Linked DNA regions of Homo sapiens: region 2 is linked to region 1. The links come from fine-mapping of genetic effects on gene expression. Tissue or cell type: lung. Region 1 holds a variant in brackets; the other region holds the start of a gene. All regions are shown on one strand. Distances are between the middles of the regions. Region 1 overlaps TMEM132C (transmembrane protein 132C). Region 2 holds the start of TMEM132C (transmembrane protein 132C).

The links. PIP is the estimated chance that this variant, and not a neighbour inherited with it, causes the effect.
Region 2: TMEM132C starts here. The variant in region 1 is the best candidate, but not a certain one, in a credible set for the expression of TMEM132C in lung (TOPMed, PIP 0.58).

Annotation. Positions count from the first base shown.
Region 1 is chr12:128,284,755-128,290,126 of GRCh38, reverse strand. All of the region lies in intron 1 of TMEM132C (transmembrane protein 132C), which reads right to left. Among named protein-coding and RNA genes, the nearest start is that of MIR3612, 6.7 kb to the left of the region's middle. The variant A/G (reference allele first, on the strand shown) is at 2,884.
Region 2 is chr12:128,264,717-128,270,088 of GRCh38, reverse strand. TMEM132C (transmembrane protein 132C) reads right to left here and starts at 2,919. Exons shown (of 9, transcript NM_001136103.3): 1 at 2,602-2,919. The coding sequence starts at 2,686. It overlaps LOC107987176 (a long non-coding RNA gene), which reads left to right and starts at 3,057. Exons shown (of 2, transcript XR_001749176.1): 1 at 3,057-3,518. RefSeq lists enhancers at 1,878-2,716, 3,252-3,773.

The DNA.
Region 1 (5,372 bases):
ATGGTAGGAAATAATGTTCCTTTCTGCACCTTTGGATCCAGCCTTTCAGAATTTCAGAAAGTAATTCCTCCACCTTTTCTGGAAGCCCTTTTTTCACATTATAGGATAGGGCACGCAATCCAGAGGTTCCATCAAGGAAAGAAAAGCAGCTGATATCAGATCTGCCTGCCCATCTTCATCAGGGCCTCAGGACAGGGTTTGCCTCATGTGAAATATGAGATAATTTGAGGTGAAACATAGGACCTTTAAACATGCTATCAGTTATGTATTTAGCTTGATGTTTTGGGGAAAATGCAATTAGTATGTAAAACAGTGACTTTCATGGAAATGATTGCTTAGGGCAAAGCTCAGATTAAAAGACTTGAAATAGAGAAAAGCTGTTGTTAAGTAAATGGAAGTGCAGATGATACCAATATAGGCCAAAAATTATTGAGAATCATATAGGGCAGACTGCAAATTAGAAAATGCTGATTTAAAAGTTACCAGCAATTTTCTGTCTTTGAAGATGGGGACGTTAAATACACCTCTTGGGCCTACTTTCTTTCAGAATATTCTCCAAAATGTGTTGTGAGTGTGTGTGCTTGCATGTGTTTTCAGCTGCACCCCTATAAACCAGGTACGCCGTGTTCTTGGAGAAAACTGTAAAGTTACCATTAACTCTAATGAAGATATTCACTGTTTTGGTTAGTCACGCAAATAGATGTACTAACAGGACTGTGCCCCACGGAGTTAGGGACATTTTTAAATTCCTAAATCTGGATTTAGATTCCCTTGTTCTTAAAAACTAACGGCTAGTCACAAGGCTGCATTCACGTATGTGTGTCTGTGTGTGTGTGCGCACATGAGCATGTGTGCGTGTGTATAAGTGTGCATGTATGTTAACATGTGAGAGGGTGTGTATAGGTGCATATGCGCATTAATGAACAAGTGAGAGTATGCAGGTGTATGTGTGTGAGTGCATGCGTATGAGCGTGCATGTATGCATTACAGTGTGTGTTAGCGAGCATATGTATTTGTGCACGTGTGGGCACACATGTGAATGAACGTGCATGTGTGTTCATGAGTGTGTGAATGTGTGGGAGGTGCATGTGTGAATGTGAGTGTGCATGTGTGCGCTAATGAGCATGAGCGTGTGAGCACATGCATGCGTGTGTGAATGTGTGACTGTGTGGGGGGCGGTGCACACATGCAGGCCTGTATGTCTAAGCATCTTCTCCGGGGCAGTAAAAGCCAAGAAGAGCTGGCTGTCCTGGGGAAATCAAGGGAAGGAGGGGAAAGCAAGAAGATGTGAATTTCCCTCAGCCCTCACTGAAGGGAAGGTTGTAAAAGAAAAGGGCTTATTTAGCCTGTGACTGTGACACTCAGGTACAACAGCATGTGCCAGACTTCAGAGACTACAGTGGGTTTGACCCATGAATATATAAGAGTGCCAGCCTCCACAGTGACATGGGGCCCCTGTTGTCCCTCACCGTTCAGAAAGTCCTGTTGAAATTCCCACCAGCTCTGTGTCATGCTGGGGGAGCTGGGAGCCTGATCTCCTCCCCTAGTGCTGCCTGGGAGACAGCTGTGCCCATGTGGCTGTCCCAGGGAAAACTCAGTGGCAGAACTCTACTAGATAAAGAGGCAGGGCCAGAAGAAACCACTCACGCCAGAACAGGACAGCCCAGACCCAGCTGCAGGGGAGGGAAGGAGAGGAGGGTGTCCTACTCAGAGGCAGAGGGCTTCTGAGCCCTTCAGCCACAATAATGGGGACATTAAAAGTAAGAGAGGGCTGGGCGTGGTGTCTCACGCCTGTAATCCTAGCACTTTGGGAGGCCGAGGCAGGCGGATTACCTGAGGTAGGGAGTTTGAGACCAGCCTGACCAACATGGAGAAACCCCATCTCCACTAAAAATACAAAATTAGCTGGGCGTGGTGGCACATGCCTGTAATCCCAGCTACTCAGGAGGCTGGGGCAGGAGAATCATTTGAACCCGGGAGGCAGAGGTCGCGGTGAGCCGAGAGCACGCCATTGCCCTCCAGCCTGGGCAACAAGAGCAAAACTCCATCTCAGAAAAAAAAAAAAAAAAAAGTAAGAGAGGATCCTGCAGGGATAACTGTGGACAACAGTGATATTAAGACTGCACCAAACACACAATCATCCCAATTCAGAACTCAATGTCCGGAAGGGCTAGATCAATTCGAAATGAATGCAGCTATTACCTCCAAATCAACACGGATCAAATTGAGGGACATTCTTCTAAAAAACCTGGCCTGTACTCTTCAAACACGTCAGAGTTATGAAGACAAAAAAAGGCTGAGAAATTGTTTCTGATAAAAAAACACAAAGAGACATTACAAGGAAGCACAGCATGAGATGCTGGACCAACAGAAAAAATCAGTTTTCTTTGGCTTTAAATAACAGTAATGGAATAACTGGAAACATTCGAATAAAGGAGGCAGATACATAATAGTACCATAGCAATGCCATTTTACTTTGACCAATGTGATTATATCAGAGAATTGCCTTATTTTAAGGAATACACATGATAGAGGTATAATGTGTGTAACTTACTAATAATTAATTCAGAAAAATTGCACCTAGAGACACACACACAGATAGATATAGATATAGATATAGATATAGATATAGATATAGATATGCAGACAGAGGGGGAGAGAGAGAGAAACATTCAGACAAAGCTATTAAGAAAAATACTGATAAACAAACCTGGTAAATGTTAATTTGGAGGAATCTAGGTGAAAAGTATGTAAGACTCTTTGTACTATTTTTGCAACTTTTCTGAAAGCCTAAAATTATTTCCTAGTAAAAAGTTTAAGACAATATTTTGATGCAGGAAGTACTTTATACAGAGTGGGCAGGATTTAAACCAGAGGTTCTCA[A/G]TGCACCCAAGGGACATTTGGCAATGGCTGGAGACATTTTTGGTTGTCATAACTGTGTGGGCAGGGAAAATGCTGCTGGCATCTAGCCCTGCACAGGACACTCCCCCACCCCAGCAATAAACAATAATCTTGCCCAACATGTCAACAGTGCTGAGGCTGAGAAACTCTGACTGCAAAACTTAAAGGAGAAGGAACAAGATTTCTCACAGACATGATCACAAGTAGTGCTGGCAAAACCGCTGCCCTTCTTGGAAAAGCAGCATCATTTGGCAGAGATAACATAGTTTTTCTTCGTCTTCTTTCTCTTATTCTCTTGACCAACATCTTTACTCTTTCTACCCCTCTCTCTCAAGTTTTCCAGGATCCTGTTCAATGGACAATAATCTCACGTGCCCGGCACTCCCTCTCTCCCTTCTTCTGGTACCAACACGTCCCTTCTTCTGGGAAGGGATCTCAAAACTCCAGCTGCATGGACTGGATGGGAACTTCAATGTCTGTGTGGATCTTGCTGCTTTGGCCTCAGGTGACTGTGTGCCCAAACTGAGCCACTTCTAGTATCTCATCCTTTCCATCAAAGTTCAGTGGTCAAAGGCAGAAATGAAAAATGGTCCTGAGGTCATAACCTAGACTATTTGTCCCACACAGCATTTAACAATTTTTTATTTTGCTGTCCACACTTGAAAGCTGCCATTTCATATTTAAATATCCTTATTTCCCGGTTTATGTAAATCAATAAGGCTTAGGAATTATTCTGCCCACACCCACTACTGTCTATGGGGGCCAGAGCTACTCTCACCTGCTGTCACCATGTGGGAGTGGCCCTGGCCTCACAAACTGAGCATCATATTCCCGTTCATCATAGCCCAATCAATGTGCTTCACTCCTGTCTAAGCAGGGGCCCTGGAGGCATTTGAGTTTGTAAGCCTGCATCCAGGAGTGGGCACATTCCACCAAGCAAGGCAGAGTCGTTTCCTGAAATGTTCACGTATAAGCTAAGGGAAGCAAAGACCTTCCTGAGAACTGAAGTCCAGGAGCTCTCAGAGGCCACATTTCCCATAATGTAGAAAATCCAAATGAGAGAATGAAGCCTCCATGAAAGCATGCGTGTGTGTGAAGGAGGCAGAGAGAGAGAGAGAAAGGGAGAGAGGGATAGAGATGGGGAGAGAGAGAGAGAGAGAGAGGAAGGGAGAGAGGGATAGAGGTGGGGAGAGAAAGAGAGAAAGGGAGAGAGGGATAGAGATGGGGAGAGAGAGAAAGAGAGAAAGGGAGAGAGAGATAGAGATGGGGAGAGAGAGAAAGAGAGAAAGGGAGAGAGGGATAGAGATGGGGAGAGAGAGAAAGAGAGAAAGGGAGAGAGGGATAGAGATGGGGAGAGAGAGAAAGAGAGAAAGGGAGAGAGGGATAGAGATGGGGAGAGAGAGAAAGAGAGAAAGGGAGAGAGGGATAGAGATGGGGAGAGAGAGAGAGAGAGAGAAAGAGAGAAAGGGAGAGAGGGATAGAGATGGGGAGAGAGAGAGAGAGAAAGAGAGAAAGGGACAGAGGGATAGAGATGGGGAGAGAGAGATGGGGGCGAGGGGAGGGAGAGGGAGAGAGAGAGAGAGAGAGAATGAATATGTCCTTGACGCCCTATTCAAATCCCAGTGAACCCCTGGGTCCGGCTGGTTCCTCTCCTCTTTTAGTCAATCTTTCCTTGGCTTGCCTGTCTGTAAAAGTTCCTCTGCTGCCTACACTGGTGTTAACCTGTTACTTGTGTTTAAGAGTCTAATGTTCTTCCCTGGCAACGACATTAAGCTCTTTAATCTTTTAAAAGCTGGTGATAAGATAATTTTATTTATTTACTAAAATGTCTTTTTTTTTGTTTTCATTCCTATTTGTAATTAAAACACAATAATTGTACATATGCATGGGGTACAATATGATATTCTGATAAATGTACAAAATGTGTAATGATTAAATCAGAGTAATTGCATATCAATCACCTCAAATACCATTTTTGTTGAAAACATTCAAAATCTGTTCTTCTAGGTATTTGAAAATATACAATAAATTGTTGTTCATCATAGTCACCCTGCAGTGCTGGAACTTATCCCTCCTACCTCACTAAACAGGGTCTTGTTCTGTCTCCCATGCTGGAGTGCAGTGGTGCAATCTTGGCTCACTTCAACCTCCACCTCTGAAGGTCAACAATCCTCCTACCTCAGTCTCCCAAGTAGCTGGGACTAAAGGCACTCACCACCACGCCCAGCTAATTTTTTGTGTTTATTTTTTGGGGTAGAGCTGGGTTCTCACCACATTGCCTAGGCTGGTCTTGAACTCCTGGGCTCAAGCAATCCTTCCACCTCAGCCTTCCGAAGTACTGGGATTACAGGCATGAGACACCATGCTGGCTGTCTTCTACTCTTTACTTCTATTCTATGAGATACCATAGCCTTAGAAAGGGTTATTATTATTAAAATGATAATTTATCCCAAATTCATCTATATCATTTT
Region 2 (5,372 bases), 20 kb after region 1:
AATTCAAGGATGTTTTGCCTCTCCTGCCTCGGCCCAAGTCTTAAATCTTAGGAAAAGATTTCTTTCTTTCAATGCCCTGTCCTATTTATGGAACCTCCCAAGAACAATTCTGCCTTTTCCGAACCCTGACAAATTGCAAAGCCTCTAAATCCACAGTCAAAAATAAACAGACAATTGGTATTAAAAATTAATCAGTGGTTTCAAGGATTCCAGAAATCAGCACTTAAATCCGTGTGCAGGAAGAGACAGAGATGGCTTTTTTTTTTTAAAGACAGCAGAAATGTAAACAAGGTCAGCAAACTTTCCTCTCTAGAAGATATCTTACGGTGCAAACGCTTTACGTGTGGAGGAATCCGAGGGGGGAATGAACTGCTGCTTTTGATCATGAGAAACAAACGGAAAATGTATTTTGCAGATGATAAGTTGCAGGCCCTTATGCACCCCCAAATCACGTGGTGAACTTTGTAAAGCAAAAAGCAGGGAAAGAAAGCCCCATCAAATCAAGGTTGCACTTAGCTAGAGGGCAGAGGCGGTTTGGGATAGGGGTGGGGCTTCGCTACGTCCCTAGTTTTCAGCACTTTCCCTTGTTGTGCAAATATCAGCTTCAAATCCAGTCCCAGTTGCCTTTCCAGCCAAATCACTGCCCCCAGCACTGAACACATGGACATCTGTAACAGCCACTCTCGTAATCAAAAGTAAAATCCTCTGGATACACACACACACACACACACACACACACACGGAATGTGAGCCTTAATGAAGAACAGTCCACACTTGCTTTAAAGGGAACATCCAGTTCGCCTGGTTAAATTCTCTCAAGGGCAAGGGGTGAAAACCCGGAGGAGGTCGGTCACGCCCTGCTCAATTAGCACCGCCTTCCTCTGCAAAGTGCTTTACTACCCATTCAGTCATTTTATCAACAAAAAACTGCTGGGAGGTAGGTTGGGAAGGGAATTCTTCAATGGCCACTTTGCATCTAGGAAAACTGAATCCTAGAAACGCTGGAACCTAGAGCTAATTAACAGCAGAATTCAGGCACCAGATCGTGACTGTTGACTCTTTCAAATAAAATAGAAAAGTGCCCCCCTCTCCTACTCCTCCACCCCCGACTTGCCCCCCCTTTCCCTCGTCTCTCACCCCCTTTCCCCCCTCTCTCGCCCCACCCTCTCTTTCCCTCTTCTCTCACTCCTTCTTCCCCCCCCTCTCTCACCCCACCCTCCTCCCTACCTGGAGCTCTTGGAAGAAAGGAACACTTATATAAAACATAGCAAACTTGTCTGGTTGGTGTATCTGGGAAAGCGCAGCCTCAAGGAAAGTAGATTTTTCTGGATTTTCAGGCGGTGCAGAATGACTTTTGAAAAGCAAACGCTACTTTTAAACCTCCATTGACAACTTGTCTCTCTGAACGCATTTCTAGCTCAGCCTCAGAGCATTAGGCGGGAGAAGGGTGGCTTTGAGTGTTCTCTGCTCAGAGCCTGGGGCCGATACTGGACCCGCGGCGCCGCGCGAAGGCTCAGGGCACCCATGTGCGCACCTCCGTTTAACCAAATGAACCCGAGACCTTCGCCAGGGCGCGGGGAGCAGGAAAGCGACGCTCTCCTTTTTCTACGCCCTGGGCGCGCCCCGGGACTCGGGCAGCTGCTGCCCTGGCAGAGCCTAGGCCTTGCTCCCCGCCTGCCCCGCGGCTCCTGGGGCTGGAGACCGCCTCTCCCCGCCCTTCCCGCCGCCGCATCCGCGCGGCCACTCGGCCGCACACGCACATAATAAAAAAGGTCGGAAAAACCACACGGCTACCTTTCGTGAGCCCTGCGGGCGCCATACGTTAACTCCTTTAAATTCCTCCAACCCAAAGCAGGGCCGTCACTCCCATTGTAGAGAAGAGGACACTGAGGTGAAGGAGCCCCGGACAGGACCGCTGGTGAGGTAGTTCCCGTCGCGAGGGACGCACCCACCTCCCCATCCGCGCTCCCCCACCGCAAAGGACTCATTTGAGAGAACCCGCAGAGAGCCCCTGGTTTCTGCCAAGCTGGGGTCCCTGGTGAGCTGCGCGATGAGTGAGCGTTCCTCTAGGGCCCGCACAGAGACCCTAGCGGTTGCGGAAAGGGGATGCAAAGAACCGGGCCTTCCCTCCTGGAGCACCAGCCCCACAGTGCCGAAGCTGTGGATGGGGAGCTGTGGACAGGGAGCACACAGCCGGGAGGAAGGAGCGCACAGAGCGGAGCACCTCTCCTGGATGCCAGTTCCACAGGGTGACTGTGCTGGGGCTGGGGCAGGTCCGCACGGAACTCAGGGATGGGGAACAAACACCGTGTCCCTCAGCCACGCCCCCTCCTCATCCGCGGGGCAGCTCTGGGTCTGGGGGGTCCGGGGTGGGAGATTCGGGACTCGGGACCAGCCTAACTTGCCCGGATCCCGGCGCCCAGCTGGGAGCGCCCTTCTGGATTAGGGGCGGCTCGGCACCCGCAGAGGCGCTGTTGATGGGATCCGAGCCCCCGCCGAGGCCCCCGCCGCACCCCTCGCTTCGGCTGCCCTCACCCCGAGCTCCCCCGGAACCGGGAAGTTCGCATGCGTCGGCGCGCCAGGCACCCGCCCCGGCCTTACCTTTGCCCAGCAGCGCGCCCAGCAGCAGGCTCAGCGCCCCGCACAGCGGCGCCGCCGGCCCGGGGGCCGCACCCTCGGAGCGCATCCTGCGTCCCGGCCGCTCACGCAGCCCGCCGCCAGCCCGAAGCGCAGCGCCCGCCCGCGGCCCCCGCCGGCCGCCCCATGCCCGGGGCCACTCCCGCAGCCCGGTCGGCCGGGCCCGCTGCGTCTCTGCTGTCCGAGGCCCGCCCCTGCCGGGTCCACGCCGCCGCAGCTCCGGCTCTGGCTCTGGCGGCTCCGGCTCCGCCGCTGCTCGCGCTCCGGCCGGGACAACTTTTCTCCCGCAGCCTCCGCAGCCTCCGCAGCCGCCGGCCCGCCCCGCCCCCGGCCCCGCCCCCGCCCCCGCCCGGGCCCCGCCCCCGCCGAGCCCCGCGACCGCGGACAGATTGAGGGTGCGGTAGGAGAGAGTTCGCCTGCCCGCCGGGAGGGGCGGCAGATGGAGAACCCCCCCGCCCGGGCTAGGGAGGGTGTGCCCGGGAAAGAAGACCGGGAGAGGAGGGGGCGTCTCCCCAGGCGGCTGGGACGGCTCCTCCGGGGGTCCGCGCCTTTCCAGAGAAACTCAGCGTTCGCAGACTCCTGCCCGGGTGCCCAACGGACAGCGGCCCGTGGCCCGGAGGGTCCTGCCCAGGGACCCGACGCTCAAGGCGGAGCTGGACTCCTTCTCCCCACCCTCCCGTGGTCACTGCGGGACCTGGTGGTCGTCACGCCCCATTCCTCAACTTCAGGTGGCCGCTGCTTTAGCCTGGAGGGCTGGGGACATCTGGAATGCAAAGTCCCGCGCAGCTGCTGCGGGGAGAGCTCCTAACTGGATCACTGAGCGCGGAAAAGCAGCGCGCAGCGGAGCGTGAAGGCGGGGTGCGGGCTCAAGACAGATGCGGGTGTGCACCTGTGCGTGTGCGGAGGGGGCGAGGCACGAGATCACAGCGGTGTCTCTGGGAAGGGGACGAGAACGCAGAGGGGAAGAAAGGATCATTTTTCACTGCATGTCTGTGGGGCTTCCACTCCCCAATCATCTCCCCGCCGCCCATAGCATGTGTTTTATTATCTTTTCAGTGGGTGGAGAATAGCCCCTCTCTAGACTTGCTCCTGCAATAGGCAATTTCTCTGCAGACTCAGACAAGGAAGATCCGCCCTCCCCCCCCCCCCCCCGACTTCGTTCTCTCTATCTTTTCCCTCTGATTTCTCCAGGGCTGGCCTCCCTCATGGTGGTGATCCCAGGTGATCTCAGCGGCTTCCCTGTGCGGTTCCTGATGCTCATGCTCTGCTCTTTCTGCCACGCGTGGTCTGAGCAGTTTGAGGGCGGGACCCCGACTCCCCCCTTGTGACTGGGAATGAAGGGCCATGGGTTCGGAGGTCTCTGGACGTCCCCTCCTGTCCTGAGCTCCTCACCACGGGCTCAGCATCCCCTCTCACCGTGGGCTGGCTCGGTCCAACATCAAAAGGAAGCCTGAGGGGTCTTTTCTCACCATCAGTGCAGGAAAGAATTTCAAAAGAAAAAAAGAAGTCCTTGATTGAAAGAAAAGAAATGTAAACGAATGATCCCCAGCAACTGCAACCCCAAGTCTTATCTCCCAACTCAGCCCCTAAGGAATGAGCCAGGCATAAGGAGAAATTGGGGCGGGGTGGGGCGAAGGCTTTGCAGGGCACTGGCCAGAGTGGGAGGCTCTCTCCTGGGGTGGGGCCCGGAAGTCTGGGCCAGGCTGGGGGGAGATGTCTCCCTGGTTTTCTTGGCCGGCTCTACTCACATGATGTGAGGAGAAGGCAGCTTGAAAACTATCCAGGCCCCAAAGGGAACGGTAAAAGCTTGATTCTCATAGGCCTGGATAGCAGAGACTTGATTTTTAAAGTGGATTATGCTGATAATCGCCCAATTCTTCAGTACATTCAGCTAGTGTAGACCTGACCTTGGGGGCAGGGGGCAGTTGTAAAGTAGATTTGGGCTCCTAAAACGGAAGGTACGTTTTATTCTCAGTGCTTTGAGCCTGAACATCACCGGGGAATAATTTTTTTTTCATTTAAATGTTCCCAGCATGAGGGAGAAATACACATGTCCCATTGTTTGTAACTGAGGATGGGAATCTGCCTTATCCTCTCTCCTCCCTATTGGATAACAGGGACAAAAAATAAAAACCCAAAGAAGTGCCCTCCACTCCCCTGTTCTATGCAGCCTCATAATGTACCTTCTTTCCACATCATTTCTTTCCTTTTGGCACAGAACATTGCTGTCCCTACTGCAAAGACAAGTCAGGTCCTGGACTACATCTCTGTGATGCAAATAATCAAAACCAGGGGCTACCAAACAAGCCACAGCAAAATAAATACTAATTCAACATGGGGTTGGAGTGGGGAAAGGATTCTCAATCAGATAAGCTCACTGCACAGCACCCCAAAGGCAGCCACTGTCTTCAGGTGATCCTGAATCACAGATGCCCCTTGAGACTATGATGCCTCCGGGCATCCCCTGTGAGAGCCTTCAGGAGACCCAGCAAATGAAAGCTTCTCTGCAAACCTTCCTTTAGGACTCCATTTAATCTATTGCGTGTCCCTCTCAAGAGCAGTCAAACAAACATGCACACAAAACTGAACAAACAAATAAAACAGATGATATAGTCAATTTCTCTTTCATAGGTAAATCCACAAAAATTGAGGTTCATGGGCTAATAAAGTTTTCTGTATTTATTTTTTTTAAGTCATGTATCATTTAACCCCCAAATCATTAATTCCTTAACTTA